Homo sapiens: one gene and its partners. The protein of the gene in region 4 interacts with the protein of the main gene of each other region in a pairwise test. Each region holds a gene or a part of one and is shown on either strand. Other genes may lie near its edges.

The links.
Region 1: the proteins of HTR6 (region 4) and AP4S1 interact in a two-hybrid assay, tested with the Homo sapiens proteins (one large-scale study listed by BioGRID and IntAct).
Region 2: the proteins of HTR6 (region 4) and NRXN3 interact in a two-hybrid assay, tested with the Homo sapiens proteins (one large-scale study listed by BioGRID and IntAct).
Region 3: the proteins of HTR6 (region 4) and SLC6A1 interact in a two-hybrid assay, tested with the Homo sapiens proteins (one large-scale study listed by BioGRID and IntAct).
Region 5: the proteins of HTR6 (region 4) and IDS interact in a two-hybrid assay, tested with the Homo sapiens proteins (one large-scale study listed by BioGRID and IntAct).
Region 6: the proteins of HTR6 (region 4) and AKR1A1 interact in a two-hybrid assay, tested with the Homo sapiens proteins (one large-scale study listed by BioGRID and IntAct).
Region 7: the proteins of HTR6 (region 4) and CHN1 interact in a two-hybrid assay, tested with the Homo sapiens proteins (one large-scale study listed by BioGRID and IntAct).

What each region holds. Positions count from the first base shown.
Region 1 is NC_000014.9:31,063,157-31,067,548, forward strand, and holds part of AP4S1 (AP-4 complex subunit sigma-1), read left to right. Parts: intron 1-2,969; 5' UTR 2,970-3,040; coding exon 3,041-3,178; intron 3,179-4,392. UniProt on the Homo sapiens protein: Component of the adaptor protein complex 4 (AP-4). Adaptor protein complexes are vesicle coat components involved both in vesicle formation and cargo selection. They control the vesicular transport of proteins in different trafficking pathways.
Region 2 is NC_000014.9:78,172,705-78,177,096, forward strand, and holds part of NRXN3 (neurexin 3), read left to right. Parts: intron 1-4,392. UniProt on the Homo sapiens protein: Neuronal cell surface protein that may be involved in cell recognition and cell adhesion. May mediate intracellular signaling. Functions as part of a trans-synaptic complex by binding to cerebellins and postsynaptic GRID1.
Region 3 is NC_000003.12:11,019,670-11,024,061, forward strand, and holds part of SLC6A1 (sodium- and chloride-dependent GABA transporter 1), read left to right. Parts: intron 1-543; coding exon 544-653; intron 654-2,666; coding exon 2,667-2,799; intron 2,800-4,392. UniProt on the Homo sapiens protein: Mediates transport of gamma-aminobutyric acid (GABA) together with sodium and chloride and is responsible for the reuptake of GABA from the synapse. The translocation of GABA, however, may also occur in the reverse direction leading to the release of GABA.
Region 4 is NC_000001.11:19,671,065-19,675,456, forward strand, and holds part of HTR6 (5-hydroxytryptamine receptor 6), read left to right. Parts: intron 1-4,392. UniProt on the Homo sapiens protein: G-protein coupled receptor for 5-hydroxytryptamine (serotonin), a biogenic hormone that functions as a neurotransmitter, a hormone and a mitogen. Also has a high affinity for tricyclic psychotropic drugs.
Region 5 is NC_000023.11:149,491,459-149,495,850, reverse strand, and holds part of IDS (iduronate 2-sulfatase isoform a preproprotein), read left to right. Parts: intron 1-4,183; exon of another isoform or gene 4,184-4,313; intron 4,314-4,392. UniProt on the Homo sapiens protein: Lysosomal enzyme involved in the degradation pathway of dermatan sulfate and heparan sulfate.
Region 6 is NC_000001.11:45,567,131-45,570,746, forward strand, and holds the end of AKR1A1 (aldo-keto reductase family 1 member A1), read left to right. Parts: intron 1-851; coding exon 852-1,047; intron 1,048-1,354; coding exon 1,355-1,554; intron 1,555-1,796; coding exon 1,797-1,869; intron 1,870-2,012; coding exon 2,013-2,099; intron 2,100-2,760; coding exon 2,761-2,826; 3' UTR 2,827-2,919; downstream 2,920-3,616. UniProt on the Homo sapiens protein: Catalyzes the NADPH-dependent reduction of a wide variety of carbonyl-containing compounds to their corresponding alcohols.
Region 7 is NC_000002.12:174,809,238-174,813,629, reverse strand, and holds part of CHN1 (N-chimaerin), read left to right. Parts: intron 1-1,147; coding exon 1,148-1,321; intron 1,322-2,041; coding exon 2,042-2,119; intron 2,120-4,392. UniProt on the Homo sapiens protein: GTPase-activating protein for p21-rac and a phorbol ester receptor. Involved in the assembly of neuronal locomotor circuits as a direct effector of EPHA4 in axon guidance.

The DNA of each region.
Region 1 (4,392 bases), on a different chromosome or scaffold from region 4:
GCAGTGACTCATGCCTGTAATCCCAGCACTTTGAGAGGCTGAGGCGGGCAGATCACTTGAGGTCAGGAGTTCGAGACCAGCCTGGACAACATGGTGAAACCCATCTCTGCTAAAAATACAAAAATCAGCAAGGCATGGTGGCAGGCACCTGTAATCTTAGCTACTCAGGAGGTCGAGGCTGGAGAATCGCTTGAACCCAGGAGGCAGAGGTTGCAGTGAACTGAGATCGACTGCACCATTGCACTCCAGCCTGGGTGACAGAGTGAGACTCTGTCTCAAAAATAAAAATAAATAAAAGTAAAAATTAGCTGGGCATAGTGACATGTATCTGTAGTCCCAGCTACTCCCAGCTACTTGAGAAACTGAGGCTAGAGGATCACTTGAGCCTAGGAGTTCAAGGCTATAGTGAGCCATGATTGTACCACTGTACTCCAGCCTGGGCCAGTATCCTCAGGACTGTTAAAGTCATGAAAAACGAGGAAGACTGAGAAACTGTCCCAGACCAGAACAGACTAAAGCAACATGACAATTAAATGCACTATAGTATCCTGGATGGGATTCAGGAACAAAAAGAGGACATTAGTGGAAGAATCGATGAACTCTAAATAAAGTCTGGAGTTAATAATAATGTACTAATATTGGTTTCTTAGTTTTGGCAAATGTACCATGGTAATGTGAGATGCTAACAATGGCCATCTTTGCAACTTTACTATAAATCTAAAATTTCAAATGTTAAAGTTCATTTAAGAACTATTACTCATCTTAGTTTTTTGCACTGGTTCTCACAGATATCACAAAACGTGAATACAATATTGTCAGCTGAGCCAGACCAGCCAGCTCTGGTGGTCATGATGAAAGAAGGACTGGCCATTGATGAATATTATGCTCACTTGCATTGATTTTTCCAAAACCTATGTTGAGTGTAAGAGAAACAAATATGAGATTCAATACAACTGAGTTAGACATAACAGCACAAGCATGAACCCCTGAATGAGGAGGATGAGTTAGGGGTGTCATGGATCCATGCATGTGCTTGGCCTTTGAACCGCAGCCCACCTCTGACACAAAGTCATGCAGTGACTTTGGGTATCTTCTTTTCTTTTTCTTTTTTTTTAAGAGTCTTGCTCTGTCACCCAGGCTGGAGTGCAGTGGCACAATCTCAGCTCACTATCACCTCCACCTCCCGGGCTCAAGAGATTCTCCTCCCTTAGCTGGAGTACAGTGGCACCATTTCAGCTCACTGCAACCTCCGCCTCCCGGATTCAAGCAATTCTCCTGCCTCAGCCTTCTGAGTAGCTGGGATTACAGGTGTGCACCACCATGCCTAGTTAATTTTTGTATTTTTACTAGAGCCAAGGATTCACCATATTGGCCAGGCTGGTCTTGAACTCCTGACCTCAAATGATCCGTCTGTGTTGGCCTCCCAAAATGCTGGGATTACAGGCATGAGCCACCGCGCCTGACCAAGTGTCTTTATTTCTAAACTTTAACCTGCTTGACCTTAAAGTAAGGATAACAGACTTGATAAGGTGGCTCACGCCCGTAATCCCAACACTTTGGGAGGCCAAAGCAGGAGGATCACTTGAGCCTAAGTGTTCAAGAACGGCTGGCAATATAGTGAAACCTCATCTCTACAAAAAGTTAAAAAATTAGCTGGACGTGATGGTGCATGCCTATAATCCTAGCTATTCAGGAGGCTGAGGTGGGGAGATCACTTGAGTCCAGAGGCAGAAGCTGCAGTAAGCTGAGATTGCACCACTGCACTCCAGCCTGGGTGACAGAGCGAGGCCCTATCTCAAAAATAAAGTAAGGATAACAGAAGTACCTACCTCAAACAATTGTGAGAATTGCTCAGCACAGCACCTTACAGAGCCTGTTATAGGGCCTGGAGGAATTTGATAAATTGATATCACTACTATTATTTCCACCACTAAGGAAAGAAAAGCTTTACTATAGATCTTGTCTCCATTGCCCATAAAATAAAGCCCAAATTCCTTAGCATGACTTCTAAAGCCAATTATATCATATGTGAGTAGCTTAATTTCCTGCAACTATTCTTCCCATGCCCTGAACTGCAGCCCCAGTGAACTTTCCAGAGCTTTCATACCTGTTTTCTCTGCCTCAGTCTTCCCCTGTAGCTCATTCTTCACGACCTCACATCAGTGCCCCTTCTCCGGGAAGCAGTTCTTCACTCTCCTGTGATGTTCCTTGTCCCTCCCTTCTGTACACCTATGGAAGCGGACCTGTCCCAGTTATAACTCATCACCTTGTACTGCCGTTGTTTACCTACCTAGCACCTTTGCTAGATGTAAAAATCAGAAGATCAGAAGTCCTTACTATTTCATCTTCACATTCTTCTGGTGCTTGACACATCGTTGTTACCCAGCAAAATGAATGAGTAAATTGAATGAATAGAAACAGAAGTACTGCAGTTGCTCAGAATTATTTTGGAGAATAACTGATGAAAATTTATCATTGGTTTTTATTTTTTTATTTTATTTTATTTATTTATGTATTTTTTTGAGACAGGGTTTTGCTCTGTTGCCCAGGCTGGAGTGCAGTGGCGCAATCTCGGCTCACTGCAAGCTCCGCCTCCGGGGTTCACACCATTCCCCTGCCTCAGCCTTTCAAGTAGTTGGAACTACAGGCCCCCGCCACCACGCCCAGCTAATTTTTTGTATTTTTAGTAGAGACAGGGTTTCACCATGTTATCCAGGATGGTCTCGATCTCCTGACCTTGTGATCCACCTGCCTCGGCCTCCCAAAGTGCTGGAATTACAGGCATGAGCCACCACACCCGGCCTGGTTTTTATTTATTAAAACCTCAATTAGTTCATAGGAATAAAGACTGATATTATCAGATGATATTTACTACTACTTTATTTACTGTTTATCTATAAAAACATTTAATATAATTATTTGAGAAATTTGATCTTGCCTTTCTGGTTTTGTTTGTTTTTGTCTTCAAGGTTCCAGTTACAGCCATCCCTTGTCATAACTTTTGAACTGTATTTGGAAAAATACTGGCCAGGAAAGAAAAATGATAAAATTTTTCCTCATGGTGAATAAACAAGGGCAGACTCGACTTTCTAAGTACTATGAACATGTGGATATTAATAAGCGTACACTTCTGGAAACAGAAGTCATAAAGAGCTGTCTCTCTCGATCCAATGAACAAGTAAGTCTCTGGTTCTCTCTTTTATCTCTGCATTCAACTCAGCCTTGGCAGATTTGTTATTAGTGAGTCTCAGGGGCCATCATTTTCTTTGAGCTATATTCCTTCAACAGCTACTAAAGAAAATAAGTGATGTGAAATGAAAAACTGAAAGAAGCATAGCTCTCTTTACATCCCTTTAAGAAAACAAAAACAAGGAAAACCTGGAAGAATCTTGGCTTCTTATTTAAGTCAGCATATTTGTCTCAATGCACCTTGGAAACGACAGTAAAATTTCCTTCTGCTAATAGACACACCTCTTCTTTTTTCATTCCTATGAATTCAGCCCTTGAAACTCTCATGAGTGCCTGTATCAGGTAGCTTTCTATAAGCCAAAAAATGAAGATCAGATGATTGGTGTAGAGGTGAATACTGAAGACCCATTTTGTGCCAGAGGATAATAATATTATTCTCAAATCGGGTGGTTTTATTCTGCTTATTATTTTTGTAAATATACCACCAATATAATACTGAAACCAGTGATTTAAAAACAAAACAAATTTGATTATCTAGGTGGGGAAAACGGAAATTAAGAATTCATGTGAAACAACAAATTTATCCATCTTCCAAAATGGAGGTTAAGGCTGGGTGCAATGGCGCACGCCTGTAATCCCAGCACTTTGGGAGGCTGAAGCGGGTGGATCACTAGAGGTCAGAAGTTCAAGACCAGCCTGGCCAGCATGGTGAAAAATTAGCTGGGCGTAATTGTGCACAACTGTAGTCCCAGCTACTGGGGAGGCCGAGGCAGGATTGTTTGAACATGGGAGGTGAAGGTTGCAGTGAGCCAAGATTGCTCCATTGCTCTCCAGCCTGAGCGACAAGAGCAAAACTCTGTCTCAAAAAAAAAAAAAAGGAGGTTAAATAGGAATTTTTAAAACTGCGTCCTTTTTTTTTTAATTTAATAGTTTTTTTTTATTATACTTTTAAGTTCTAGGGTACATGTGGACAACATGCAGGTTTGTTACATATGTATACATGTGCCATGTTGGTGTGCTGTACCCGTTAACTCGTCATTTACATTAGGTATATCTCCTAATGCTATCCCTTCCCCCTCCCCCCACCCTACCACAGGCCCCGGTTTGTGATGTCCCCCACCCTGTGTCCAAGTGTTCTCATTGTTCAATTCCCACCTATGAGTGAGAACAATTTTTTTTTTTTTTTTGAGATGGAGTCTTGCT
Region 2 (4,392 bases), on a different chromosome or scaffold from region 4:
CTGGGTTTATTTTTTAAAAACAACCGGACTGTGCGAATGCCCTTTTCTGGAGCTTTCTGGCCCTTTCTAGTGAAATAATAATTTAAAAAAAATTGCTTCTTGAGAAGAGGAGGGGGCAGAAATTAAAGGGATTCTAGATTTTGAGAGACAGCTACGTCTTTGCTTCTCTGGTAGTTCCCTATTATTAATTATTGGGGTTTTGACGGCGTTCTGGCCTCCGTTTTTGTTGATTTCATTTTAGTGCTGCGTTTCTCCTGACTATGTTGATGATTTGCTGCTTATATAAGGGAAAGGATGTATTGAGGTGGACTGATGCTTGGGGTTTTGAGATCGGCTACTGAGATTGGGTGGCGGTTGGTGTGTTTGTCGATGTGCATGGTAGGAAGGTCTTTTCTTTTGGGTGGTAGGGGATGAGAGAATGGTGGGAGAACGGTAGATGAGATGCTACAGCAAACGGGGATGTGGGGGGAGACGGAGGTGAGGTTGGAAGTCACCGGTTTGCAGAATTTCTATTCTGCACCCCCCTTTCTCTCGCTCCTGGAAAAAAAATCCATTATCTATAAAAACACATTATTCTTCAATTGGCCTTTTAGAGAAAAAAAAGAGAGAGGGAAGGGAGGGGTTAATTTGGTGAGGGGGCTTGGTCGTAATTAGCCCACTGCTGCAAAACTGAGATACAGAAATCCATCGGCACCAGCTTTGGGGGCATGGAGAGGCAGCGGAGAGATGGGGGACGGGTTGTCAGTCTTGGATGAACAGTGGAGCGGTCGGGTTGGCGTCTGGGCATTGTGTGTGCTTGTGTCTCTGTGTGTGTGTGAAATTTTTTCATCCCACCACCAATCTCCCCCTCCATCCTCCCCCAATTCTGCCATGATCTTGCCTTCTATTTCCACACACTGCTCCCCCCACCCTAGGCGCACCCCCCCTTCCTCCAGCCCTTTCCATCTTCATGAAAAAAATTCTGATTTTGATGGCTCTGCGGCTCTTTTTTCCCTTTTTCCTTGCTTTTTTTTTTTTTTTGCAACACAACAGTCGTGCGATGGCCTTTCCTACATGCCACACGGATGCAGCCTTCTGATAGGAGGGCAAAGTCGGCACATCCACACACACACTGGCATACGCTCTTGCACACACAGTCTCTGTCACATACACAGGCGCCAAGGGCTTCATTTTGCTTGGTTTCATTCCCCTTAACCTCTTTCCCCACTCTACCTCCACCATGGCTCCTTCCCCCCATCTTTGCATGGGGACTGCGGTCACGTTAGAGCCTCTTTTCCTCTCCGCAACCGCGGTCTTCTTTCTTCTCGCCATTATTCTTTCCCTAAAGCTGTCGTGTGTCGCAGTTCATGGGATTAGCATGTTGGAGAGTCTTTGTGGGAGGGGACCTCACAAGCAGGGGATTGGAATGGGGGTAGATAACATTAATAATTTTTTTTGACCAAATAAGCACCCAGTGATAATGATCCAATTTAACCATCCATGAAATATATGTTTGCGGTACATTGGAGGAAGGTTATGTGGGGGAGGCAGAGTCTGACGGGGTTACCTCCGGGGAGATTTGATGCCTGGACAGTAGAGCCACAGCCCCCTCCCCCATACACATGTGTACACTCTCTCACACACACCAACACGCACAGCTCTGATCAGTGGGCTGTGTCGAACCAGAGGGCACTGCAGAATATCCCAGAGAGTTGTGATGGTTAGTTGGGAGGATGGAACAATGTCTTTGTCCGACCCAGTTCTCCTCTCTACAGATGATTCTGGGTCTTGAAATTCTTGGTGGCCTTTGTGTTGGTTTACGGGTGGGGACTGGAAGGGTGTTTGTGTTTTGTCAAGCACCAGCGTGCCTCCAATTGGACAACATAGGATTGTCAACACTGTGCGTGTGGTTCAAGCAGGAGGCTGCCTGCCTCTTTGTGTGGTGTGGCTGTGTTTGTTGGATATGTGCGTATCCAGCCTCATACGGTGGCTCTGGACAGGTGTGGTAGTGACGGGGAAGGAAGGCAAGAAGCAGGGATGGTCAGTGGGGAAGAGTCCTCAAGGTAGTTGAGAGGAGGGTAGAGGGGAAGAAACTGCTCCTGCCTCCAGCAGGAAGCCTCAAATGAGATCCCCACGTCCACCAAGCGAACCCGTGGGTGGGTGGCTCATGGATGACTGGTGGGCGGATACAGATTGAAGGGGGAGAAGGGGATGAGGTGGGTGAAATTGAGGGTTTTCCCTGCTGCCTTGACAGAGCCTGGGGCTGAGCTCGGGAGGGTGGTCTTGCTCCCCTGGCATCAGCCACCTCTTGGGCGGCTCGGCCTTGTTGGAGGCTGCAGCCTGAAGGAGCTGAAATCACCCTCGGCCGTGAGAGCAGCCCAGCCCCTGTTTTCTCCTGGGCTCTGGCTGCCTTAACTACCGGACGCCATTTTCCCATCTTCAGCTGAAGGTGTGTCTCTCTTTATTAGTAATTATAAGTGAAATTGGAAAACATTTTGCCTAAAAGAAAAAAATCACAAAATCCTCAGAGCAAAATGCTGATGGTCTTACCTTTCTAGCATCCCTCTCCCTTCTTGGGGCTGACCCTGAGGAGTTAGGGAGACAGGGTTACGTCATTGCCAGAGAAAGGGGATAAATGGGGAGTAGGATGCCTTGGGGGTAAATTATTGTGCCCAATGCAGAGAAGAGATTGTTCTTGGTATCCCCCGGCCGTGTTCTCCTTACATGACCCCTCAGGTGTGGATAGGAGACTTGCAAAAGAAGAAGCATTCCTTCTAAAACCTCACTGCCTAGAAATGTGCTGGCCCGTGGTCGGCTGTGGTCTGGGACCTGCTGTGGTCCGGTTCCTGCTGTGGTCCGGTTCCTGCTGTGGTCCGGGACCTGCTGGGGGAAGAACTGTTGCGCTGCAGCTCTGAGCCTTGAGGGCCAGCTCTGTTGCTCTGAGGATGAAGCAAGTGCGGTGCTGTGGCTGGGCCAGCCACAGGTGGCCATGCTGGGCTCGGGGCAGGTTGGCCATGCTGAGCTCGGGGCAGGGACTATGGATGGGGCCCACTCCCAGCCCTTTCCTGCAGGTTGTTCCTCAAATTATACTCCTCAGAGAGACCTTTCCTGACCAGCTTTCTAAAATAGTCCCCTTACCCCAACCTCCTGGCTGCTTTCCAGCCCATGACACTGTCTTTAATTTTAATCGGTGAATCATTATTTAATATTATATTATACGATGATATATTGAAACATTTAAGATGGATCTCGTCTCTTTACCCCTCTAGAATGCAAGCTCTGAGAGGTCAAGGACTTTGTGTTCATTGTGGTGTTCCTAGTGCGTAGGACATTTCCTGACACGTAGTAGGTGCTCAACAAATGTTTGTCGATTGGAGGAAAGAACCACATGGGTTTAGTGTTGGAGTTTTCTTCTCTAGCACTTGTGGCCTGTCTTCTGGGAAGGGTGGACTTTGCCTCTGGTTGTCTTAGCCCTGCCTGAATGTCTAGATCTGCTGGAGGAATTGCAACATGCTCAACTTCAGTAGTTTAGTAGAAAGGGCTTCTCTATCCCTGGCTCAGATGACTCTGCCTCCTTTGAGATCCCTCTAATATTAGTAATCACCATTCTCATCATCATCATAGTAGTGGTAGTAATAGTCGTGATATAGCTATCATTTCTGCAGTAGTTACTATTTACAAAGTTCTCTTCCAAGTTTTTTTTTTTTTTTTTTTAACACTCGGTATCTCATTTAATTCTCCAAACAACTCAATGCAGTATACTATTATTACCTGAGGAGACTGAGACTTAAAGTTACCTAATAAAATGACAGATCGAGGATTTGAATTCAGATCTGTCTCATGCCAGAGCCCAAGCATGGGACCCTTATGTTATAGTGTTAGAGGAAAAAGGGAGATGAATCATCTGTCATCTTATTCAGTGCCCTCAAGTACAAATGACAAGATGGAGGCCCAGAGAGACTACATGGCTTTTCCAAAGTTATGCACCACGTTTGATGCAGAGACAAAACTAGAATCAAGGTTTCCTGGCTGCCAGGGTAGGGCTCTTTCTACTCCATCATGCTGCCTGGTGGGCTGTGGGCCCTTTTCCAAGGGTATTGCAGCTGCTGCTGTGGGGGCTGCCTGGGGTGCCTTCTTAGTTCTCTTTCTTCAGAGGGGAGTGAGGTCTTGGTGGGGCAGGTGGGTGGTAGGTGTGTCTCTAAGGAAGGCACACTTGCAGAGCTAGAGGTCAGGGTTTCATGGCTCGAAGAAGACTGGTGGGCTATATTCCAGCTGAGTGGTGGTTAAGGTTGTCTTCTGACCTTCCTGGGGGAGGAGAAACTGGAATGGAGGAGGACCCCCATTCCAGTGGGGTGCTCAAGGTTCTCAATCCCATATAGCCCTGCCCGTCAAGGGTACTTTCAGGTCCAGCAG
Region 3 (4,392 bases), on a different chromosome or scaffold from region 4:
ATGGGTATACTTAATGCTTCTAAATTGTACAGGCACCAATAGTTAAGATGGTAAATGTTGTGTGTATTTTATCAAAATTAAAAAATGAAAGAAAACAAAAAGTGAAACCCACCTCATAGGGTTCTTGTGAGGATTAAGGAGCAGATATGTGTAAGGAACTTAGAACTGCGCCTGGCAGAGAACAAGCCCTGTAAGTGTTTGCTGGTGTCGTTGCAGTGAGAGTTAGATGGGCAAGGTCTCTTGCCCAAGGTCACATGGTGGGGAAGTAGCCCCGGCTGCAGCTTGGAAGGCTGTTCTCACAGTGAACAGGTTGAGGTTCAAATCTCAGCTCTGGCACTTAGTAGCTGTGCATTCTCAAGCAAGTCACTGTCCCTCTCTGATCTGTCAAATGGGGATCATAATGCTACTTGCCTCCCAGAGCTGCTGCGAAGGGGAGGTGTGAGGAGGCTTGGGGACCATGAGGGTGGGCAGGGTGCACTGGGACCACTCATGCCAGCCCCTGGGAGCCCAGCAGGATGCGTCCTCATGACTGTGTCCTTGCAGACACTGCCGTGGAAACAGTGCGACAACCCCTGGAACACAGACCGCTGCTTCTCCAACTACAGCATGGTCAACACTACCAACATGACCAGCGCTGTGGTGGAGTTCTGGGAGTGAGTATGGGGCCATCAGGGGATGGCAGGGACGGGGCATGTCAGCCAGAGCCCGGCAGGAGACAGAGGCCCCTCGGAGGGGTAACAGAAGAGGTGGATAAAGGGGCTACAGTCATGTGTCACATCATGACATTTTGGTCATCAGTGGACCACATATGCAACGATGGTCCCATAAGATTATAATACCATATTTTTACTTTACCTTTTCTACGTCTAGACATGTCTAGTACCGAAATGCATTGTGTTACAGTTGCGTACAATATTCAGTACAGTCATGTGCTGTACAGGTTTGTAGTCTAGGAGCAATAGGCCACACCGTATGGCATAGGAGTGTAGCAGGCTAGACCATCTAGGTTTGTGCAAGTACACGCTATGATATGCACACAACAACAAAATTGCTTAAGAACGCATTTCTCAGAACATATCCCTGTTGTTAAGTGACACATGACTATACTTGCAGAGTTGTGGCAGGGCTAAGGCAGCCACAAGGGATGCTGAAGACCTTTTCTCCCCAAAAAGAGTTGGACCACAGATAGAGCCATGAGACACACAAACTCTGACCTTTGATAGCAAAACCCAGCTACTCACAAAGCCAAGGTCCAGCAGGAAGAATACATTCCCCAACATCTCTGCCTCTAATCTCCTGCCAGCTCCTCCCAATGGTCAAACCCAGCTAGAAGCCAGAGGGCAGGGGACCAGATAATGTGGCCATAGTCGTCAGCATCCTGGGGCCTGGCACAGAGTGGTCAAGGGGAAGAGTGGATCAGAGAGGCAAACGGAGGGGAATAACCAGCATAGCCAATTAGAATCACCTGGAGAGGTTGACCACATCCTGATTCATCCTGAAAACCAGCCTGATCTACTTACGAACCTAGAGTCACTCGGAATAAACATGCACACACACTCTGGCCATAGTGAAGGCCGTGCTGATTGTATCTTCAGGGGAGTACCTTGTAGAGATGTGTGTCGGGGGTCACTGATGTGACACAATGAGGTGCTGGGGCCCAAATCTCTCTGGCATGAAGGAAGCATCCATGCTGGACAGCTCAGAAGGATCCGGGAGCAGTCTAGAAGGTCTCAGAGCACCTTGGATAAGCTCCCAGGAGGAGCTGTTCTCAGGCACTGTCAGAATCAGAGTTGCCTGATCTCTTCATGGCCAATGTCCATGGTTACACTGTTTCTTTACAAATAAAAATCAAATTCTGCTCTGGTGGGTTCTGCTTTCTGGCATCTCCCGCATGCTGCTCTCAGGCACGTTCGGACTTTTCATTCAACCATTTATTCAGTAAACACTTCTTGATCTCCTACTATGTGCCAACTGATGACAGGCACGGACATGCAGACAGGCAATGGCACCACCAGGCGGCCAATGCGGAGAGGAGGGAAGCCCAGGCAGCTGGGCTGCGGGGACCTCAGGGAGTCCCCTGGACCACCCCAGGTCGGGAGTGGCATCTAGAAGAGAAAACTGCAGGGCAGGCAGGTGCTGGAGAGAAACAGTGTGAAGGCTGGGAGGCAGATGAGGTCAGGCCAGGCACCGGCAAACAGCTGCAGTGAGTGCTGAGAGGAGAGAGAGATGCAAGGGCCTTGAAAGGCTGGCCAGGGAGTTTGGGCTTCATTCTGAGAACAAGCGGGTGCTATTCATCGCAGTAAGCAGAGGAGTGACATGATCAGACTTGCAATTTAGAAGGCTCTCTGGGGCTGGAGAGGGGATAGAGCAAAACTGAAGGCAGGGTCCCACTAGGAGGCCACTGGGCCATCCAGATGAGCAGTAGTGGTGGCTGACTAAGGCCCTGGCAGGTCCTGTTCTCTTTGATCTCTTGACCAAACAGCACTTTCTACTGATTAGTATAATGGGCCTCACAGTCCCCAGCTACCTCTTGAATCACGGTGATGACGGTGTCAGCACAGTTCTAGGGCGGGGATATCATCTGTGGCCATGCCCTGGGCACCCCTGGGTCACTCCGGCTCCCACCAGCTCTGTGTAACTTTCTCCTCCCTCCACTGTTTGACCAGGCGCAACATGCATCAGATGACGGACGGGCTGGATAAGCCAGGTCAGATCCGCTGGCCACTGGCCATCACGCTGGCCATCGCCTGGATCCTTGTGTATTTCTGTATCTGGAAGGGTGTTGGCTGGACTGGAAAGGTAAGGGATATATGTGCACAGTGGGGACAGGAGGGCACTGGATAGAGGAACAGGTCTACAAAGGAAGCTCTGCCCACAACTCCCAAGAGTCCCATCCAACCTTGAATTAAGCAGGTCCCTTCAACACTCGGTGTGTCCGTTTCTTTTACTGTGAAATGGGAATAATAACATTACCTTACCTTCTGGGGCAGTTGTGAGGATAAAAGGAAATAGTGCAAGTCAAGTACGCAGCACAGTGCGAAGCTCACAGTGAGTCCCATGGGATTCCACTGGGCCTAACAGAGTCATCTCAAAACAGAGGGCAAATGTTGCTCCTGGACTGTTGAACAAACTTTTCCAGAGCATCTGCTCTGCACCAAACCTTGTTCTAGGTGCAGAAACTCCAGAGATGACAGCTTCACATCCTGACCCTTGAGGAACAACAGAGATGAATAGGTTAATGGTTAGATTCAGGCTCTGTATTAAGCAGTCCATGAGTTAAGATCCCAACCTCACCATTTACTAGCTGTGAGCTCAGGCAAGTCACTTTGCCTCCCTGGAACTCAGTTTCCTTCTCTGTAAAACGGGGCTAATAATTATACTTATCTGTTGGTTTATTATGATAATCAGATGAGATGGTGCTTTTGTCAAGCGCTCAGCACCCAGCAAGGAGAGTTGTTATTACTCTTGTTTTTATTCTCAGCAAGTGCAGAGCAAATGCCAAGCTGGGATGTCTAGCCCAGGGACACCCGGGAGGTGGAAAACTGGCCTTACTCCACCTTTTCTCCCTTTCAAGCCCTACCCCAGGAGCCTGGGGGCAGAAGATGGCAGTCTCTCACTGGCCCTGACCTGAAGGGAACCCGGAGGACAAGTGTGTTGTCTCAGATCTTATGGCAAGTCAAGGGCAGAGAAGGGATTTGTACTGAATAAGATGGGAGGCAGGAAGGTCAGAACTACCCAAGAAGTGAATGCAAGGTTCTAGAAGCAGTAGTAGAAATGAACCAAGCAGAACCTTAACAAATTCCACACTTGGGCAGGGCAGAGCTGATGAAAAGCTACCCTAGTTTCATCTAGTGGGAACTTCTGGACCCACTGGGTTCTCAAATCCAAGGCTGGTGTAAAAGTATCTCTGATCCATTCCTAGGACTAGGGACGCCGGAGGAGGGCACAAGTATCTCCCAGTCTAAATTTCAGGAGCAGAAAAGTATAGGGCTTATGGGCTTTGGAAGGGTTTGAGTCTCAGTCCCTGAGCTTCTAGCTGTGTGCACTTGAGCAAGCCATTTCATCTCTCTGAGCCTCAGTCCCCTCATCTGTTCAATGGTCACAATAACAGTACCTTACAGGGTTGTCCCAAAGACTGAGGGAGATGAGTAGAATGCTTAGCATATGCCTTACACATAGTAAGCACTCAATACATAGTATCAATTATAATCATTTTGGAGTGGTAATTAGAGTTCGTGCTACATTAGGAGACTGGCCACTTCTTGGGGACAGAGAGTAGGGCCCCCTCACTGCATATATTGAGGATGTCAACCAATCCATCCACAAGCATTTATTGAATACCTACTATGTGCCTGGCTTCATGCTGAACACGGAAGGCACAGGGAAGTACGA
Region 4 (4,392 bases):
TCTTGAAATCTGTTCTAGTTAGGAGTACAGACATTAATCATCAAACTGTACCACGATGAGGATTATGGAGCTTATAGGAGGGATGCTTCACCCAGCAAACATTCAAAATCTATTATTCACTGTGTATGTTTGAAGATGAAAGCAAAGCACTCACACCAAGCCCTAAAGTGAAAGGCTGGAGGGGTCTTCATGGGTTGGTTAGGCCAGCGCCTTACTTCTAAGGCAGAGTGACTCAGGGGCCTCTCAAGCCAGAAATGTGTCTGTTCTAATCCCCCCGCTTTCTGGAAAGCCCATTCTCTTGGTTTGAACGTGACGTGTGCAAATTCTGCCTCTGTTCCTGCTTTCAAATCCACTCGGCTCCTTAAGTAAGCCTCCTGCAGGCCGTTTTCCTGATTGCCTGGTGAACGGCCTGCACTTTGGGAAAATGCATCTGAGAAATTGCATTGGCCCTCCTGGGTCACCGCCTCTTTCTTCCCACCAGAGCTGGCCTGGAGGTGGAGGCCCCCTCAATGTTTGGACCTAAAGGAAGTGATGAGAATGAATCAGATGTGGGTGTCTTGGACCCCTTCCCTTTTCCTGTGCCCAGCCCCACTTAGCCTTGGCTTCCTGCCCCATTCCACTCTCTAGCTTCCCTGCAGAGGGAAAGGAGCTGGGCATAGGTCTCGAGGCCCCAGTTCCTCTGGGGTCAGAACATGGGAGCTGGTCAGCCTTGAGCATTTCATCCCCTCTCCATATGTCTATTTATGGAAATGGGCTTTTAAAAGGCCACTGGTTGGCTTAGTGATTTCCACTAGGTCTTCCCACCACCTCAGGGCTGGGAGGAAGGGGTCCTGCTTAGCACTGTGGCTGGGAGTGTGGGCTGGGGATGGAGGAAGAGCCGTGGGGCAGAGTGAGGAGCTACCAGGGCAGGGGAGTGTGTGTGTTGGGAGCAGGGTGGAAGGTGGGGGCCTGGATGTGGGTGGCACTGAGCCATCCTTGGGAGATTGTGGAGGGTCCAGGGTGTTAGGGGCAGTTTCAGAGATGCAGCATGGGCCACTGGCTTGAGGGAGAGCCCAGCAGGAGAGGCCCAGCCTCCTCCTCTTCCTGGCAGGATTTCTGGGTCTCTGTGGTCCATAACCTCATCCCATCTCTACACCTCACCTTCCTCCCCACTCCCATCCATCCTTCTCTCCTTCAGTTCCCATGTCTTCCTTCTGTGTGCCCCGTCTTCCCCTCCCCCTTCTCCTGTCCCATCAATTTCTCCCGCTTTTCCTCCTCCCCCTCCTTTTTTCACCCTCTCTCACCCAACTAAGCGTCATTCTGTCTTAGTGATCCATCTTCCCTTCCATCTCTGTCTTTCCTCCTCCTCAGAGGAGGAGGCTGTGATCACAGAAATATCTGTGAGGGGGAGGAGGGGGCCGAGCCAGGGAGAGGCTGGCAGAGTGACACTGCCGAGCATGGCAGGCTTGGCTGCTGCTCAGAGCCAGGCAGCCTGGTGCAGCCAGGGCTGGAGCAGGAGCTTGGGGGTCTGGCTGGTTAGGGTTCAAGCCCTGCCTCTTTTGCCTCATAGCTGGACGATCTTGGGCAAGGCATTTTACCTCCTTATGCTCCAGGGGTCATGACATCTATCACACAAGTCTGTTTGAAGAGTCAATTAGATAATATACATAAAATACCAGGCACATAGTAAGTGCTCAACAAATTTCAGCTAGGCAGTGACTCACAACTGTAATCCCAACACTTTGGGAGGCCAAGGCAGGAGGATTCTTTGAAGCTAGGAGTTCGAGACCAGCCTGGGCAACATAGCGAGCTCCTGTCTCTAAAAATATATATAAAAAATTAGCCAGGCCTGGTGGCACATACCTTTAGTTACAGCTATTCGAAGAGGCTGAGGTGAGAGGATTGCTTGAGCCCAGGCAACAGAGCAAGACCCCATCTTTAAAACAACAACAATAGTTGTTCGTGCCTCTCTTTTCCTGTTGTTGGTAAAATATGTTTCTGGGGAGCTCACCACCTTGACCCTTTCTAGGGAAAAACATCACTGCTGTCACCAGCACCATCACCATCATTATCAAACAGCTGAGCCAGAGACTAATAATAATGACAACAATAGCTAACACTTCTATGGGACTTCCTATGTGCTGGCACTGTTCTAACTTTCAGTGTATTATTTTATTTTATCCTTATTATAATCCTATGAGGTAGATGCTATTTTAGTGCCATTTTACAGAACAGAAAGTGGAAGCATAGATGAAGTAACTTGCTTAAGGTCACTCCACTAGTTTGTAACAGAGCCAGGATTTGAAACCAGGCAGTCTGGCTCCAGAGTCTGTCTTGTAACTCTCACACTATGATCAGATGATGGTAACAAAATTTAATTGTGGGCTGGGCGTGGTGGCTCACGCCTGTAATCCCAGCACTTTGGGAGGCCGAGGTGGGTGGATCACCTGAGATCGGGAGTTTGAGACTAACATGGAGAAACCCCATCTCTACTAAGGTACAAAATTAGATGGGCATGGTGGTGCACACCTGTAGTCCCAGCTACTTGGGAGGCTGAGGCAGGAGAATCGCTTGAACCCGGGAGGCAGAGGTTGTGGTGAGCCGAGATCGCGCCATTGCACTCCAGCCTGGGCAACAAGAGCGAGACTTCGTCTCAAAAAATAAATAAATAAATAAATAAAATTAATTGCACAAAGGAATACATAAATACACTTTAAAAATTCAACAATAGGGATGAAGGAAAAGACCTCCAAATTCCAGCTAATCACCTTTCACTCCCAGGGACATGCATCAATTTAGGATATGTCCTTCTAGGTCTTTTTTTTTTTTTTTTTTTCTGTTAGGACAGAGTGTCACTCTGTCACCCAGGCTGGAGTGCAGTGGTACAACCACGGCTCACTGCAGCCTTGACCTCTTCTGACTCAGGTGATCCTCCCACGTCAACCTCCGGAGTAGCTGGGGCTACAGACGCACATCACCATGCCTGGCTAATTTTTGTATTTTTTGTAGAGATGGGGTTTCACCATGCTGCCCAGGCTGGTCTTGAACTCCTGGACTCAAGCAATCCACCTGCCTCGGCCTCCCAAAGTGCTGGGATTACAGGTGTGAGCCACTGCACCTAGCCCTTCCGGGTCATTTTCTATGTGCTTATGTATTTATACAGGTACTTAAAGAAACTTGGTGCTTTGTGTTGGATATTGTTTTTTAAACAAATAGGATCATGCTGTATCTATTACTTTGCAACCTGCTATTATAATTTAATAATCATGGAGATCTTTTCATTTGATTGATTCATTCTTTTAAAACATCTGTGTAGTATTCTGTAGTGGGAATTCACCGTGGTTTATTTAAGCCACTCTTCTCTTTTTTTTTTTTTTTTTTGAGACAAACTCTCACTCTGTCACCCAGGCTGGAGTGTGGTGGTGTGATCTCGGCTCACTGCAGCCTCCACCTCCTGGGTTCAAGTGATTCTCCTGCCTCAGCCTCCTGAGTAGTGGGACTACAGGCATGCACCACCACACCTGGCTAATTTTTTTATTTTTAGCAGAGACAGGGTTTTGCCATGTTGGCCAGGCTGGTCTCGAACTACTGACCTCAAGTGATCTGCCCACCTTGGCCTCCCAAAGGGCTGAGATTATAGGCGTGAGCCACTGTGCCCAGCCTAAACCACTCTTCTTTTGATGGACATTAAGGCTGTTTCCAATTTTTTCCTATCACAAGTAGTGCTGTGGGACACATTCTTGGATATGTGAAGCGTGCAGACATGAATGTAGGTGTTGGCTGGAAGCTGTATGTGTGATTGTTGGCTGGAAGGGCCCTGGATTGTCCTTCAGGAAGCTGCCCTCTGACACTGATACAGAAGGGAGATGCAAACGACAGGACATGGCCCCAAGGGGCTGCGAGGTGCTTATGGGGGAGAGAGAATCCAGAAGGGTGATGCCAGCATCAGCCAGATGCCGGGGTGTGGACTAGTGACAGCCATTGGCTTCTGCTCCATGAGGGCCTCTTGCTGACAGTGGTGGGGTTTCTGTAACCCCACCTGACTGGGCCCATGGATGCCGTCTCCAAAGGTGGAAGCAGCTTGGTGAAGTGGGCAGAGTGGTGTTCCTGAGGCCAGAAATGATGGAATCCCTAACTCAACTCTTAACTGCTGTGTGACTTCTGGCAAGTCATTTTGCCTCTCCGAGCCTCAGTTGTCTCATCTGCAAAATGGGGATGACAATGCCTACCTCTCATAAAGACTGAATGACCTAATGACTATCAAATGCTGATGTGTAGTAAGTGCTCGAGAAATGGGGATGATAATGCTGATTTGTTCAGGGCCACTCAGGTTTTGGTTGGAGGCCTTGTACTGGAACAGTGTGACCTTGGGAAGGGTAGAGTGTCCTCTACCCTTTCTGAGCCTCAGTTTCC
Region 5 (4,392 bases), on a different chromosome or scaffold from region 4:
TGGCCAGTGCCACCCAGCTGTGATGTCCGGCATTCCTTTGCCATGATTTAGGGGCGGAGCAACCACACAATTAGAATCCTCACACTGACTCATCAGTCACCCTTTCTCCCTGGAGAGCAGAATACACATTGACTAATGCTCTTTCTGGAATATTCCACACAGAACCCTGCCCTTCTCTTACCACATGAATGCTGTGGCAGGCAAGCTATAGCGGATGGAAGATGGCAGTGTTTTCAAAGTGTGCATCCTGGACTACCTGCCTTAGAATTTCTGGGAGGGCTTGTTGGAAATGCAAAGTCTTGGCCCACTCAGATTTACACAATTGGAAGCTGGAGGTGGAACTTGACCTGACAACCGACATTTCTTAAAAAAAAAAAAAAAAAGCACACCAGGTGATTCTGATTCATCAGAAGTTTGAGAGCCTCTGCTGTAGAGTATTGTTTAAAGCAAACACAGAACAAAACCACTGCATACAGATATCCCTTGCTATCCAAACTTACTTGGCCCCTGAGTTTGCACAACAAGAGTTTGGTTGGTGAGAGGTGTACATTCCTCAAATGTATTTGATTCCTGTTTCACTGAGAGTTTGGAAAGCAATGCATCCATCTGTTTGTTTTCTAATTTTGTGTTTCTGGGCTCCTGATGGTGAAGTGGCTTGAACTGGCTCTGAGGCTGCACCTGGATGCTTTATTAGTGATGGTCACTTAAAATGACCCTTCAAAATGGACTGTGTGCCAGGAAGGGCGCTGATTCATGTGTGGTATCGCCTTTAGTCCTCATGGGGACTTAGTGAGGTACCTGCTCTCTGTTGTCTAGGTGAGGAAACTCAAGGCATGGGAGGTGTGCTGACTTGTCTGACAGCACAAAATTAGTGCTGGGTGGAGCCAATTCATCCCCAGGGACTGTAACTCCAAAGCCCCATGGTTGGATCTGTTGGTTCCCAGCAGTGTGGGTTCGAATTCATGTTCTACCTCATACCAGCTGCCTAACCTCTGTCAAGTCATGTTACCTCCCTGAGCCTCCCTGAGTTTTCTTCTCTATAAAACTGAAACAAGGTAGGTAAAGTTTTTCCATGATAACACCTACTTTAGAGATTTTCAGCAAGAACCAAAGAGAGCATGTAGAAGTATCTAGGACCGTGTCGGCTGCACGGAGCTATCTCCTTCAAGTTCTCTTAGTCCCCTCCTTACACACAGTGGACAGCATGACTCAGAGGGCCTCCCTGATGCCTGCATGTGCTGGTCTCAGCCCTGTGTTCCCCTTGAACTCTGGCCTGCTCACTGTCCTCTTGTAGCTTTGGATGTCCGCATCCAAGCCCATCTCACTGCACCCTTGAGACTCAGCTCTGGGATCTCTTCAGCTCCAGCCCTCTAACTCAGCTCTACATGAGCCAGTGACCTCAGGGGCCACACTCAGGAGTTTGTTGCCTGCTCCTTCCGAGTCACCATACTGACCACAACCTCTTCTCCTAGCACTTCCCTTGCTCTACCTCACGGGGATTGCTAGAGTATGGATTTCTATCTCCCCCTTGTGTCCAGGTCCTGTTGGCTTTGTTGCTTCCCTAAATAGCTAAGGCCTGGTGGCAGGTGACTTACTGTACTTCCCAGCCGCCCAGCTCACCATACTTGTCCATTTATCCTTGCCCCTCCTGCAGTACCTTTATCGTCAGACACTCCAGCCACACCCTCTGCTCTGTAGTCCAAGTCCTGAAAGCTGCTGGAGAAAATCCATGCCCCCACGAAGCAGGGAGGCCCTCAGATGCCCCGCCTCCAGCCCCAGCAGCCCAGGCAAGCTCTCTGCTCAGCTCACCTCACTTGTCCTCTGCAGCTGCTCCGTTTGCATGACCTCTTCTCTACTCCCTTTCACTGCTCCCCTCCAGGCCTTTGCCACCCCTGTGCCCCATTTCTCAGTGGATAGCACCTTTCCTCTTGTAGAAATGGAAGCTGGTGGACAGCCAGAGGTAGGGGATCGGACAGGGTGGATGTGGGTACGCATCCTGGCTGTGCCCCTTATCAGCTGTGTGACTCTGGGCAAGTTAACCTTTCTGAGTCTTGGAGTCCTTAATGTGCCGTTCACAGGATCAGATGCCACCTAGTGTGTACTTGCTGAATGGGCTCTATTAATAATCTCTGTCACTGAGACCTGGAATTTTGTGTATGCATGTTCTGGGCTCGAGGCCTCTTCCCTCAACTCCCCACCACTGTCCCTGCTTCCCACGTCTGCAAGCAGAATGAGCAAGATCTTCCTTCTCACCTACCTACCCTGCAGCCTCTCCATCCACTCTCATCCCTCCCAGCTGCAAAAGTGCCAGCCCCCTTGCCCCTGCCTGTTTCTGCTTTCCACTCCTTCACCTGACCTCCAAGGCAGAGCGAGTGCACACTGGGCTGTTCTGGCTGTGTCTGTGGCCTCATTGTCCATTTGTTCTTCACCATCCTCTACACAGGCTTCCACCTCCCCAATCCACTAAACTCTCACCTCAGCACTGACCTTGGTGGCCAGTAAAATCTATCTGTGTAGGTCCTGACCTTCCTTGAGCTCTGTGTCACTTCCTCACTGTTGGCCAGCTCCACCCCTTCTGGGACTGTTGGCCTCCCAATCCTTTCTGTGTCTGCCACTTAGGTGCCACTTCCCAGGCCCCCCACTATATCCTTTCCACCTCTTCTTCCCCTGCTGGGCTCAGTTGAGCCTTGGCAGATGACTCCAGAACTACCCCTTCAGCCCAGGTCTCTCCTGATTTTCAGATATGTGTGTTGACCTGCCTGTGAGAGCCATTCCTAGGCAGATGACCCTGGAGACCTCAGCTCCATAGGCTTCCGCGTGGTCAGGCCACCACCCCTGCCCTGCCTTTTCTCCTTCCTCCTCCTCCTCTTGCGCCCCCTGCCCCCAAATGCCAGCGAATTATGCCACCAGCTGAATGTGAAACCTGGAGTCACCCTTGGGTTCCTCAACACCTCCTCCTCCTCTGCTCCCTGCCCCCATGTCTGCTTGATGCCCCTGAATTCCTCTCACATCCACACAGTCCTCTGGATCCTTCAGCACATTGTTCTGGACCACCTCAGTGGGCCTTGCTTTGTTTTGTTCATTCAGCAAGTGTAGTGAGCACCTCTTATGTACCCAGCAGTGGCCTAGTACCATTTTGTCTAAAGCCTCTGGAATCTGTGTCTGTGTCCTGTTGCAACAGGACTCTTAATAACTTGAAGCCCAGATCATGTCAATTTCTCGCCTTGAAAGACCTCAGTGACTCCATTGGCCTAGAACTTGGAGTCTCCACTCCCTGGATAGACCCACCAGGTCCATATTATCTGGCCCGGACCTAACTTTCTAGTCACCCCTCTGCCCTCCCATTTGATTCTCCAGTCACATGGGCCTTTCATTGGCCCCAAATGCAACCTGCTCTGTCACAACTCCACACTGTTCCGTGCCCTGCAGCCCCTGCTTGGAGCATCTGAGCCCCATTTGTCTGACTGCAGGTGCTTCTTGTCAAATTCTAACTCCTCTGTGAAGCCTTCCCTGAATCTCCCAGGCAGATTTGAGGGCTTATTCCCCTGTGTCACCCCTGGGCCTCTGTGGGGGATCGGTCAGAGTGGTGGGAAAAACTATAGGGAAAGGATGCAAACCTTCTGAAAGGTCAGAAGGTTCTGCAGAGCCCCAGGGGAGAATAGCTGTTCTATAACCCTGAGGCAGAGGGCAAGGAGTAGGTACAAGGGAGTGTGGGAGAATTTATCTTAAACAGGCTTGTTTACTTATGTTGACCAGGAACTGACCTTTGATCGTCTGTGCTTGTGAGGTTCCCTGAAAGGGGAACAATAAATGTTAATTACCTGCAGGTTGGCTCTAGGTTTTTGGCATTATGCCTGCACTGAATAAAAGCCAGCAGCTCCAGCTTCTCGGGGCTGCTCTCTGGCCACTAGAGCCAGGCAGTAACCTAGCTGCTCTTATGCTGCATACCTGTGTCTGAGTACTCATTTCATCCATAGGCCAGGGTCTGCAGGACAGACCCAGCAGGCCTCACTGATAATTAAGCATTTTCTTGTCTCCATGATTGTGTCCTCACTGGATGGGGTGGCTCATCAAGGGTGAGGACCTTGTCTGCTTATTGCCTTACGTCCAGGGGCTAGCATAGGAAGGAGGGAATACCTTTGTATAGGACATAGCCATCCTGACAGGTGTCTTTCATCCCCAGGAGGACCAAAGTTCCACAGGTTTCAGACTGAAGACTTCATCTACCAGAAAGTATAAGTAGGCCAGGGCTCAGCATAATCCTGCTGGAAGGCTAGATGTATATCTTTTCTCTTGACTGCAAGTGAGAACGGGTGAGTCTCATGATTGTCCTCACCCTGGCAGTGATGAGAAGAAGCTGGTGGGTCCAGCTGATAAGTCAGGGGCTGGTCT
Region 6 (3,616 bases), about 26 Mb from region 4:
CCAAGCTGAGGAGCTTGACATGGGATCTTAGCCTCTTCTGCTACAGCAGCTTAGCTGTAGCTACAGGAGTTTAACTCTGGAAAAAGGAAGGCAGTCTCACATGGTGTGTACCCCAGGGTATGCACCTGTAACCCTCCTGCTCCCTTTATTCATTTAGAAAAGGTGCTGACTTTTCTGTTGAGCACCTGGGGTTACAGTAATAAGTAAGTCTCAGCAGAAGATGTGAGAAGAGCTCACCATTAGTGCCGTGCCCTGTGCTGGAAGAAGGGTGGATAACTCCCTGAGGATGAGTTAAGGAAGACTTCCTAGGGGAGAGGAGATATCTACGTCTAGGAAGAGGAGGGGGCATAGGCATTCCATGTAAACTTAACACCTGGGTTACGATCTGGAAGGATGAAAAAGCATGGCTTTTTTTGGCCAGGCGCGGTGGCTCACGCCTGTAATCCCAGCACTTTGGGAGGCTAAGGCGGGCGGATCACGAGGTCAGGAGATCGAGATCATCCTGGCTAACACGGTGAAACCCCGTCTCTACTAAAAATACAAAAAATTAGCTGCGCGTGGTGGTGAGCGCCTGTAGTCCCAGCTACTGGGGAGGCTGAGGCAGGAGAATGGCGTGAACCCAGGAGGTGGAGCTTGCAGTGAGCTGAGATAGTGCCACTGCACTCCAGCCTGGGCGGTAAAGCGAGACTCCATCTCAAAAAAAAAAAAAAAGAAAAAGCATGGCTTTTTAAAAATTCTTGGCCCTTTGTCCTCTCTGGGATTGGAGTTTGGGACATAGAGTGGCTGGATGGGCAGGTAGGGTAGAAGCCTGGCATTTGTGTCCACACTTGGTGGGGCTGTCTCTCACTCAGGCGGGGAGACAACCCCTTCCCCAAGAATGCTGATGGGACTATATGCTACGACTCCACCCACTACAAGGAGACTTGGAAGGCTCTGGAGGCACTGGTGGCTAAGGGGCTGGTGCAGGCGCTGGGCCTGTCCAACTTCAACAGTCGGCAGATTGATGACATACTCAGTGTGGCCTCCGTGCGTCCAGCTGTCTTGCAGGTAAGGACAGCAAGCAGATGAGTGGTTTAGGGGTTGTCTGCTCAAGAGCATGAGGGAGCAGACGATGGATCTGCTTAAGGGAGATAGCTAGCAAGTTGTCAGAGTGTTGGTGCAGAAGTCCTCTGCATAAAGGTGGGCATTGAAGCAGTGGGAGAGAATGAAATTGCCGATGGGAAATGGTGAGAAAAGCAGGCTGAAGGGGAGTGGAGGAGTCAGCAATAGGGGGTGGTCCAGACATGCATGTCTGGGATGGGCCAAGCAAGCTGGGTGTCACCACTTCATGGTGATGGGTTATTCTTTGGCTCAGGTGGAATGCCACCCATACTTGGCTCAAAATGAGCTAATTGCCCACTGCCAAGCACGTGGCCTGGAGGTAACTGCTTATAGCCCTTTGGGCTCCTCTGATCGTGCATGGCGTGATCCTGATGAGCCTGTCCTGCTGGAGGAACCAGTAGTCCTGGCATTGGCTGAAAAGTATGGCCGATCTCCAGCTCAGATCTTGCTCAGGTATGGGGCAGTCTTAGGGAGAGGGCCCTGGGTTGGGAGGCAAGGGTTAAGGGATTTCTTATTTCAGTGTCTGGGTGAGGCTGAGGATCTTGCCTTGTGATCTGGAGGGAGGCCACTGTAGGCATATTTCCCATTTCAGCAGGGCTCAGGTGCTCCAGGAGCTTAGGGAAGCTGCATGGGGAACAAAATAGTGCTTATGAATACTGACCCCTTTTCCTCATCTGTCTAATCCCCCAACTTAGGTGGCAGGTCCAGCGGAAAGTGATCTGCATCCCCAAAAGTATCACTCCTTCTCGAATCCTTCAGAACATCAAGGTACTTGGTAATGGGTTCTATCTTCTTTAGCTCTTTGGGACATTTTCTTGGCCCTGACTCTACCTGGCTAAAAAGGCAGTGTTGTGGAACCCCAGCTTCTGCTCACAAAGCTGGCTTTCTTGAACCCCACTCTCCATCCTCAGGTGTTTGACTTCACCTTTAGCCCAGAAGAGATGAAGCAGCTAAATGCCCTGAACAAAAATTGGAGATATATTGTGCCTATGCTTACGGTGAGGATGTATCAGCCTCCTAGACTTGGGGAATGTGAGATTTGGGGTGGGATTCTGGCCCAGGTGTGACCTAAGGCTTGCTGGTTGTGAGAAGGACACAATGTTGTGGGTGGGATTGCTATGCTGGACATAGTGCCCTCATTTCTCTTTATTGAGCTCAGGGAAGTAGTATGGCTCAGGGATAAGGCATATAACCTGTGAGTCCCAGTCCTGCTTCTTGATATCTTGTAACCTAGAGCAAGTTATTAAACTTCTCCAAGCCTCAGCTTCCTATGTGTAAAATGAGCCCAGTTCCTGACATGTAGTAGATTCTCAGTAAATGATATGAGGAGAGCCCAGAAGGCGTTGTTGACCTCACTCGAGGGATTGGGGTTGGGAGGGAAGTCGGCTGTACTTAGGGAAATAAATGGTTCCTGGCCTCTTGATCTCAGTTCAGACTGCAAACTCTTAGGGGCAGGGGTAGCTACATATCAGGCTATGGGTTTGGTGCTAGAATGGTGTTGATACTGTGGTGTTCTCTGAGGATGGGGATCCCAGCCAATGCCATCTGGCATAGTGCTGTACACAGGTGAGTTTGTTTAGGAAGATTTGGGGAAGATGCCTGGAGTCTTTGGAATGGCAACTCCTGCTGATGGAGTAATCTATCTGTCTCTCTTTCCAGGTGGATGGGAAGAGAGTCCCAAGGGATGCAGGGCATCCTCTGTACCCCTTTAATGACCCGTACTGAGACCACAGCTTCTTGGCCTCCCTTCCAGCTCTGCAGCTAATGAGGTCCTGCCACAACGGAAAGAGGGAGTTAATAAAGCCATTGGAGCATCCATATTGCTTGCTTGTCTTATTTGCCTGGTCAGGCCTGAGATGGAGGCTGTTTCCCTCAGGGATGACAGACCTCGGGCTGCTGGATGTGACCTGCCCTTGAAGCCCAAATATTCATATCCTGGTTCTGGAGGAACCTGTGAGGAGGCTGAGTAATTCTGTATCCTTGCATTAGGCACGTTGGGAAGTAGCGCCATCTACTGGCACATCTTAAGCACTGCATGCTTCCCTGGAGTCTTCTCAAGAATGCCTCAAATTGGCCACCTCAGGAGTGAGCGATCAGGGCAATGATTGTCCGTTGGTTTCAAGGCAGTGCTGGACCTGGGCCTTAAGTTTCCATCCCCCTGTCCTGACCAGTGCCTAGGTTTAGTAATTTGAAGAGTCCAAGCGACTTACATTAAGAAGTTAGGGAATCCTAGCTTGCAAAATCACAAAAGGTGGGGACAGGGGCTTTCTCCATCAGACACTATAGTCAGTGTGCATAGGTGACCTGCAGGAGGCAACAGTCCTGCCCAGACCTTGTCACTCGGCCCCTAAGGCCCTATCTTATGCACTTTTTATTGGTGGGCACCAGAGACCACTGATAAACAGGTTTTAGGAAGGTTTATGGCAAATCTCTCTAACCTCCAGTCACACGAAACTCTTTACTTTCCCAAACCATTGCTCTTTGTTCAAGAAGTATTTATTGGGTACTTATGGGT
Region 7 (4,392 bases), on a different chromosome or scaffold from region 4:
CTGCAGTCTAATTTAACAAAATATTTGTATTCCTCTCTACCCCATCTAAAATTTCTTTGTACTTTTCTTGTTGAAAATAAAGTGTCTCACAATATTAACCAGAAAATGTTTCATTTCTGGCATCTTAGAAGTTATAACCAAGTAAAATTACAAAGCAAATGAGTAACTTCAGTAGAGGCAGTATGTGTCTAGGTGTTAAAATTGGGGACTGACTCTAGGGGCTTCCAGATAACTGAACATGTGGCGGTTCCTAGAGGGTGATACACCCAGGGAGGGCTGGAACCTCCACACCCCTTTCCCCATACCTCATCCTATACGTCTCTTCAGCTATATCCTTTGTAATTAAACAGTAAACATTTTTAAAATGTGGACTCTAGAATCATCCATAGGCTTGAGTTCTGTTCCACTGTGTACTAAATGCATGGCCTTGGGTAAATTACTTATTACTTCTGTGTTTGGTTTTCTCAGATATAATATGAGGGAAAAAAGTACCCGTTTCATAGAGCTTTGTGAGTTTAAGTGAAATAATAAATGTAAAGCACTTAGAATAGTGCCTGGCACTAGTAAGCCCTCAATAAATGTTAGCCGGTAATAGTATAGCAATAAATAATAGTTACAGCTATTTCCAGCTACTAGAGGAATTATATATTAGTTATCATATATATAGAAAGGATTACAGATAGATATAAACATGAGCAGCACCATTTTAAGAGGGCCCTGGATATTCCTACTTTTGGAGGTCCAATTCCGCTTTATATCAAATATACTTAAAATGCAATTATACCCCACATTAAATAAACATTTTATGTAACTTTAAAGAAATGGGTTTTTTTTTTGGCTATTTGACATATTTTGTGGACATTGAATTAAAAACATTAATTTTGATTTTTTTGTTGTATTCTCCTGAGATCATACAGCAATTAAACGATGAAGCGTGAGCTAGAATTCTGGTCTCCTGGCTTATAATCAAATTGTTCCAAGAGAAAAGATGAAAATTATTGTTTTTCCACCAAGAAAGAACTGCTGGAGTCTAGTCCACTTTAAAACCTAATTCAAGCTGGAGTGCCTTTTGCTAAAATTAACACTCCAGAATGCTCAAAACTCTGAAAATAATATTGAATGTTTCCTTTCTTTATTCTTTTCTTAGATTGTGGTTTGAATGTTCATAAGCAGTGTTCCAAGATGGTCCCAAATGACTGTAAGCCAGACTTGAAGCATGTCAAAAAGGTGTACAGCTGTGACCTTACGACGCTCGTGAAAGCACATACCACTAAGCGGCCAATGGTGGTAGACATGTGCATCAGGGAGATTGAGTCTAGAGGTGAGCCATTTGCAGTGCGGGTTGCAGTGGTCTCCGTTCACTACCAGTACCAATCCTGATGCCTTTTGGGTACCTCATTGCACAATACGGTTGTCTTCTGTAATTTGGAGGGGAATGGTTTCATATGTCAAATGATCTCAAAGACTGAAATGAATTAATTTAACAATTAAATAGCTTGATTTCAAGGTACATTTAACTAAGTGTAGCCAATGTGCTTGTATAAAAATATATTTATAGATGATGCTTCCAGTCTGCAAAAGTTGACAGGTAAAGACAAATTCATTTTTCAGTTTTTAAATTTTTCTTTGGTTCAAAAAGCAAAAGTATAAATGCTCTACTAAAACTATCTATAAAGCCAAAAACAGAGCTGCATCCTAATTATTCTTTCCCACTTGAGAAAAACAGGCCTATATTTTATCTTAGTCTTCTGTTATGTAAAAGAATTTATGATGTAATTGGGGTGATGAATTATTTCCCTTAAGACTTAACATATTTCACTTAATTAGACCAAATGATGAGCCAGATGATATTCAGGTGACAATAGGTAAGAGTTAAAGAACTGTGTGTGAAATCGTTTTATTCTAGGAGAAGAGTGTGAAAAGATTTCTAAACATGTATATTTTATTTCTTCTGACACATTACCTCCCAGCTTAAAGTGTGAGGAGTTAAAATCTGAAGAAAAGGCATAATTCAAAGAAACTAACTAGTTTTATTTTTCAGGTCTTAATTCTGAAGGACTATACCGAGTATCAGGATTTAGTGACCTAATTGAAGATGTCAAGATGGCTTTCGACAGAGGTATGTTTTTCACAATGTTCCATAACTTAGGACAATAATACTCTTTTCTAAAAAGGCACAATTTCTTGTGAGGTATTTTTTGCATTATTTTTCTAAATCATTGATGATTATTATACCAAATTAAAAAACTTAGCTTATAATTTCTTCTTTTTTCTGAGTTGTAAGTATTAAACAGTCAAATTTCAGAATATGAAAGAAGTATAAAATTAAACTATGTTACCAATATTTGAGTATCCAAGGCTGGTCCATGTTCACCAAAATACATACAGAGCAATTACATTCACCAAAAATGATAGAGAAAAGAGTAGGATCTATACCATTACAGATTTCAGGCTTCTCAGGCTTGAGTTAACCCACCTTACCCTGCCTGTCATCCATGCCCCGCTGGCATCCTCATCACCATCTTCGATTAGCTGAGTGAGACCCAAGCCCGGACTCAAGTTTTGGGGCCAGAAAGCTGAAAGAAGCTTTAGGGGCCTTCTGTGGGGGACCCATCAGCCACTGTAGGAGAAGGGGCCCAGTCAAAGAAAAGCTCAGTGGAGCTTAATTTTCTTAGCTAACATTTAAATTAAGATTTGCTTCCATGGCTCTCCAATTTGTCTTTGCTTCAAGGACTAGAACAAGGTGGTTCCAAAGAAGACCTGTAGCCTTGAATACAGGAAGTAAAGGAGTAAGAGTTAGTGATCTTTTAAAGAACCACTTTCCTTTGCAAGTACGTATTCTAGTTCTATCACACAAACCTCTCCCATTCACAGACCTCTTGTAGGCAACAGAGGCAGAAAGCAAAAGTAATTAAATATTCATTACCAACCTGAGGGAAACTAGGCCAGCCCATGTATGTGATAAGAGCAAAGAAAGGGAGGTGAATTAATGGTGTATTCACTCCAAATAAGCATCAGGAAGAGCAGTCCTGAATCCCTGCCAGATTGAATGGGAAGAAGCATCTCTTTACTCTGGAAGCTCTGCAACTGAGCATGTCCATTCCCAGCCTCTGGCTATGAGTCTCAAAAATAAATTCACACTGACAAAGAAACTGAATGTTCCTATGGACCCCAGAGAGCAAAGAAATGACACAGTTTCCTGTATAGAAAATATGAGACAACCATTTTGTGACCTGAAAACACCAGTAACAGATTTTAAAATTCATGAAGAGCTCACCTTGGCTCCCTGTAGCCACACTGCTGGGGGCCAGTCTTTGGCCTCCCAAGGATGTGTACCAGCACTCATCTGCAAGATCTATAGTAATGATGCAAAGGATTTTAACATGGATTACAGGAAACCAGTGACTCGGATCATTAAAATCAGTTCTATATATAAATGCTGCCCAATTCCATGCATGTTCAAAGGAATAATCCTATACCTTTGAATAAACAGAGCAAAATAATTTGGAGTAATTAAGGATGATCACTTCTGAGAGGCATAAACCTCAAGTAATGAGATCCAAGAAAGAAGACAATATCCATAGGATGCTGGAATGAACTCATTTAAGAGCCAAGGTGAAAAGGCAAGTTTGGGGAAATCTTCCCCAGCTTAGGAAATAGTGACTGAATGGAAAGCTGACTATTCTGAGGTCAGCAGTTGCCATTATACCTCTGCTACATTTTGTCCTTTGGTGGAATCACAGATATTTATGTGACAGGTACAGTGAGAGATCCATGGTCAAAACAAATAAAATCTCATCAGCTTTACCCCAGAAGAATCCTAGTCTGCTGGAGGCAAGAGCAGAAAGTAAAGAAACAATCAGGAAACAGAGATGTTATAGACGTCTTGCTGATATGGTATAGCCCTACTTAGAATGTAGTATGTGGATATCAGATTCCAGGATTTGTTTACATTATTTTAAAACAGAAAATAAGTAAATAGATAATACAGATGGAAGAATATATTTGTGTATTTGTGTATACTTACTAAAAAGCAGGTTTTAAAAGAACCAGTTTAATAACAACGTACATAGTAAGCCCCGGCATGTTACTCTTTTAGGCCCCTAGCTTGTTTAAATCTATTTTCCATTGATTGGTTAACTCAAAAATATTAAGCAGCTACTATATGCCAGGCACCATGTTCTTTAGAACATTTATAGAGCATAGACGAGGTGCCATGAATCCTGCCGAGCACTTTAGATATGATGGTTAACCATGTACGCTTGGTCCTTGCACTCATGGAGGGCTCACATTAAATAATAATCACACAGTGGCTATTGATTTTATTTTAATAAGGGCTATAAAGGAAAATATTAATAACTGGGGAGTTTAACCTGTCTAGTAGGGCAGGTA